Linked DNA regions of Homo sapiens: region 1 is linked to region 2. Evidence: fine-mapped expression QTL. Tissue or cell type: tibial artery. Region 2 holds a variant in brackets; the other region holds the start of a gene. All regions are shown on one strand. Distances are from middle to middle.

Region 1 (2,668 bases), 57 kb after region 2:
TTGATGCATCTCTCAAGGTTGATTTTGAGTTAGAGGTTTGCTCTGTCCATACAGACTTGTTTTTCTCCCTGCTTAGAACCAGCATGAAAAGAACGCAAGAAGAAACTTTGGTCTTATTCAGATCACATTTTAAAAACCTGAGCTAGCATGATAAGAGCAGTTAAAACATATTCTTTCTAAAGGCACAGGGTCCCAGACACCAAAATAACCATCCATTCCCTAACCAACTGATGTCTCTCTGCTGTACGTGGTAAATTAAAACTACATGTTTTACAACGTAAAATAAAGGGTGCCCCGAATAACAACTAGGTTCTTTAAAGTTAGTGTTTTGGGGGAAGCATGGGGGCTTCTTTGTAGCACTCCTTTGAAAACTATTTCCGAGAAAGCTCCAATACAAACACCTTTTTCTTCCTAAGGAATCAACCTTAGGGAATCAACCTTAAGGAATCAATCTGCTGGGCTAAATCTTCAACACCTTCCCTTTTCATCACCTTTGAGGCAGATAACCAAAATTTCTTTAAACTGCTTATTTCACAACGGGATGACAAAGGAGTGTGTGTGTGTGTGAATGCGTGTGTGTGCGTGCCCGTGTATGCCCGCGTGTACAAAGGTGTGTGAGAATGCGTGTATGTACGTGCCCGTGTGCGCCCGCGTGTGCAGTTTACCTTTTTACAAAATCCAGCATTTAAAATAGATTTTTAAATTCCCCTTTAACAAATGATTGAAAATGGTGTAATCATTTTATCTTTTGTTGTTTTTTTTTTTTAGTTCAGTAACAGCCCAGAACTGTAGTTTTGAGCCATGTCATCAAATCTAAACACGACTAGGGAAGTGGAGCGGGGAGAAACAGGAGAGAGAAACAGAAAGGAAAAGCGGGTGGGCGGTGAAGCAGAAGGCTGGGACAGTCAGAGGGATTCGCCGTCTCACTCTTACCAATTCCTCCCTCGGCACACATCACAGCATGTTGGTCACGAGTCGCAAGGTACAAGAAAAGAGCTAAGCACAAATTCGAAGAGTGAAAGCGGGTTGTGCTTCCACGCCAGCCATTTGCCTTCCGGGAAAAAAAAAAAATCACTTAGACATCTCCCAAACTCAGCTGCGGGAGCCAGCGCCGGAGCCTGTGCTGAGCTCGCAACCTACTTCTCCCTCCGCTCCTCCTCCCGTCTCCGCCAGGCTGCAGAGCAGCCCGAGCTGCAGTGCACCGCCAATCGCCCACCGCCCCGCCCTCCGTGACGTAGCAGCGGCAGGGCCTGGCAACTGACCGGCTCCCAGCTCCAGCTGTTTGACCGAGCTGCCCTTCTGCCCAGCGCAGATGCCCCAGTGACCCAGAGCCCTTACAATCTCACCTCTGACTTTCACCTCCCAAGTACAGGTTGCTCGCGGTTGACGGTTTGGTTCATTGTTTTGCTGCAATTCTAACAATTCACTGTTTTAGCTAAACGTGGAACACTGGACAATTATTTTTTGGAGGGTAAAAGAGATCAAATCTAAAAATGTCGCGCCACTGCATTCCAGCCTGGGCGACAGAGTGAGACCCTACCACAAAATAAATAAATAATATGTAATGTTACTGTTTTTATGACTAGAAAAGAAATGAGGAAAAATATTACAATTCTGATTTGGTCGTTTTCCTCACACCTTGCCCTTCCGTTCCCTTACTCAGGATAATGTGGCTTTGTCCATACACCTGCCAAGGTCCGTTTGCTTAAAATTCACAACTTTTTTTAAAACTTCTAAATAAGTTTCAACAACCTGTCTGGTTTCTCAAAATGTCTAATTTGGAAAGAGGAAAAGCCATTTAGTGAAGGCCGAACCAATAACTCAGAACAAAACCTAATAATCTTGGCTGCCTGTTTTATCCCATTGAAACAAATATAAAAAGTGGGGCCAAACTCTCCACAGCTCTCCTATATTGTGCCTCTCTCTTCCATTCTCTCAAGTGTTTCTCAGATGTGCAACAAGAGTGAAGAAAACTAAATGAGCATGCAAATGTTTGACTATTAGTAAAGAGCTCACCAGTACAGACACAGGGAGCTGGTTGGTCGGCTTGAAAATTCTCTCAGACCAAGAGAAGCCAAACAAGTTTCTGCACCCACTGAGAACGTGCTTCTGCCAGACGAGGAGAAACAAGTTCTGGGTGTGGCTTCCTATGATGCTCCATTAGGGAAGCCTCCATCTGCAGGTAAGGACAAATCTCTAGAACTTAGTCAAACTTAATCCCCAGAATTAACCCAGCCTAGTAGAATACACTGTCATTTACATGGCCTCTGAAATTCCTGGCCCTAGTAGCACTTTTTGCAGTCATATGACTGTCTCTAACATCCTTTAAGATGAAACACATTTCCTATCTGAGAGTCAACCTTATAGAGGAGACTTAAAACTGTAGCTGGGCCCCCCTGAGCTCTCCCAATCAAACACTGGTGTTGTTACCTCAGCAGAGGGCCTTCCTGGGAACGTACATACCAGGACAATTCAGGCATGTAGCCTGTTTGGATTGCTTAAATCAGTGGTTCTAACTAGCTACACATCAGAGTGAACCGGGGAGCTTGATGCCAAGGCCCCACCCAGGCCAATTAAACCAGAATCTCTGGGGGTGGCGCTATGGCAATGTCTTTTTTTCAAGCTCCTCTAGAAATTCTAATGTGCACAAGGGTTGAGAATCACTGAC
Region 2 (2,852 bases):
AGATTAAGACCCAGAGAGATTAAGCAGTTCAACCATGATTAAACAGCTAGTTGTGGGTGGAGCTGGAAATTCGATTTAGGTCTTCTGCCTCCAAAGCCAGCACACTACCCACTATATTATAGCTCCTCAGCAGTGATTTGTATATAATAAGTTGGCTCAGTGGTTCTCCACATGGGGTGAATTTGTCCCCTGGGGGTTTGGCAATGGCTGTAGATACTTTTGCTTGTTATAACTGGGTGAAGTGTGCTGCTGGCATTCAGTGGGTGGAGGCCAAGGATACTTCTAAACATCTTACAATGCTCAGGACAGCCCCCAACAACAAAGATTAATCTAGCCCAAATAGTGCTGAGACTGATAAATCCTTGAGTAGCTCAAGGAATTTATTGATGACGTAACACCATTTAAAAAATATTTTAAAAATACAGAAGTTTCCCCTTTTTCACAGGGGATATGTTCCAAGACCCCCAGTGGATGTCTGAAACCACGGATAGTATTGAACCCTAAATATACTATGTTTATTCATATACATACATACCTATGATAAATGTTAACTTATAAATTAGGCATAGTAAAAGATTAACAACAATAACTAATAATAAAATAGAATAATTATAACAATATACTGTAGTAAAACTTATGTGAATGTGATCTCTCTTTTTCTCTCTCAAAATATCTTATTTTACTATACCAAAGGTAATTGAAACTGTGGAAAGTAAAACCACAGATAAGGGGGTAATACTGTACTTCAAAACACATATAAACATGGAGGCTATATTTAATGATCGTGTAACTCCTAGCCATCATTAGGGAAATCAGTCGTCATGCAACTATATAATTAGTATAGTTCCAGGTAGCTCAGCTATTACTGTAGGGAAAACTTGTTCAGTCAGTACAATTGCAAAAGTGGAATCAAGAAGATATGAAGTGACTCAACCTTTAATCATTTTGTGGAAGCTATGAAAAGGAAATAGGCCAGGCCCGGTGGCTCAGGCCTGCAATCCCAGCACTTTGGGAGGCCGAGGTGGGTGGATCACCTGAGGTCAGGAGTTTGAGACCAGCCTGGCCAACATGGCGAAACCCCATCTCTACTAAAAATACACAAAATTAGCTGGGTGTGGTGGCGGGCACCTGTAATCCCAGCTACTAGGGAGGCTGAGGCAGGAGAGCTGCTTAAACCCAAGGGGCAGGGGTTGCAGTGAGCCAAGATCGCACCACTTCACTGCAACCTGGCGAGACTAGACTCCTTCTCAAAAAAGGAAATAGACCAGTAAAGTTACAATGTGA[T/C]TCAGAAAACAAAGCTACTGGAGCTATAATTCCAGGCTCAGTGAGAATTTTATAAAAATTAGGTGTGAAGCCAGGTGTGGTGGCTTACACCTGTAGTCCCAGCACTTTGGGAGGCCGAGGCTGGCAGATAGCTTGAGCCCAGGAGTTCGAGACCAGCCTGGGAAACATGGCGAAATCCTGCCTCTACAAAAAATACAAAAATTAGCCATGCGTGGTGGCATGTGCCCATAGTCCCAACTACTTGTGAGGCTAAGGTGGTAGGATCACTTGAGCCCAGAGGGTTGAGGCTGCAGTGAGCTGAGATCATGCCACTGCACTCCAGCCTGGGTAACAGAGTGAGACCCTGTGTTAAAAAAATATATTGTATGAGAAACAAAGGTTTATTATAATATTGATAAAACTTATCCAAATCGTTATGACTTTTAATATTTCTTAGTATTTCTTTAATATTTCTTAATACTTACCTTAAGGTAGACTCCAAAATAGTTACATGAATGCCTCAAAGCAGGGCAGGAATTCTTACTTTTTGCTTCATAAGAAAAAACTTACAAAGTCTATTCTTTCCTTTGTCTGAAGGTAGATATTGAGATAGGTACCAAATTGTCTACTTTATTTCTCTTCATTATTTAATCCCCGATCTGTCTTTTCTTCCCATTCCCCTCTTCAAATACCCAGTAATCTTCCTATAGCCTGTTACTTGCATCAATTTGATATATGGAAGAAGTGGGCATGAGTCTACAGAACAAAAAGTTTATCATACTTTCAATGTGCTCTCCAAAGGGCCCGAAACAAAGGTGAACAGCATTCAGATGAGCTTCCTTCAATTGTATCATCAATCCTCCATCAACCCTTTCACTATGAACTAAATCTGCAAACATTTCCAGCATTCCAACTTTTGCCTGCTTGTAAATAACACACTCAGCTAAACCTCCTCCAACTGTATCACCCATATATCCTTGATATATAAACCTTTGTTCTAAACAAATTCCCCATACAATTCCAGCATCGTAAGAACATCCAGTATCTTGGCTTCAACATCCCAAGCCTTAATCAGTGCAAAATCCACCTCCAATACTGACTGCCTGAAAATCAAAACAAAATGGAACAAGAACACTGACTTTATATCTTATGACAATGAACATGATAATTTATGTTTACATATCTGCCTCCCACATCGGACCATGAGCTCCTTAAGAGATAGGCCTATTTCTTATTTTAACAATATTTACAACAACAACAACAGTAACAACAGCTATATTTATAGAGAACTCATTTTGTGCCATTTGCTGTTCTAAATTCTTTATGTGAATTATCTTCTCTCATTCTCTTAACCATCCAATGAGATAGATAGTGTCATTGATCCTTTTTATTGAGGCACAGAGAAATTAGATAGTTGTTAAGGGCCACACAGCTTGTAGGTAGTGGAAATGGGATGCAGACTCAGGAGGCCTGATTCCAAAATCCTTGTTCTTGAAAAGTGTTCAATGCTACTGCCTCCATGTAAATCAGATTCACAAATTGTGCATCATAAATGTATACTCTGGACAAGCCCAAATTGATGGACATTC

Which allele goes with the higher level. Alleles are on the strand shown, and positions count from the first base shown. SD is a standard deviation of normalised expression in the study named.
For the expression in tibial artery of the gene that starts at base 1,178 in region 1, C is the high allele of the variant in region 2 and T is the other (small effect, 0.25 SD a copy in GTEx).

Evidence for each region. PIP is the estimated chance that this variant, and not a neighbour inherited with it, causes the effect.
Region 1: it holds the start of ATP10D, and the variant in region 2 is fine-mapped to the expression of ATP10D in tibial artery (GTEx, PIP above 0.99).

What each region holds. Positions count from the first base shown.
Region 1 is chr4:47,483,785-47,486,452 of GRCh38, reverse strand. ATP10D (ATPase phospholipid transporting 10D (putative)) reads right to left here and starts at 1,178. Exons shown (of 23, transcript NM_020453.4): 1 at 934-1,178. RefSeq lists enhancers at 1,006-1,075, 1,047-1,341.
Region 2 is chr4:47,540,897-47,543,748 of GRCh38, reverse strand. All of the region lies in intron 9 of ATP10D (ATPase phospholipid transporting 10D (putative)), which reads right to left. Among named protein-coding and RNA genes, the nearest start is that of ATP10D, 57 kb to the right of the region's middle. The variant T/C (reference allele first, on the strand shown) is at 1,285.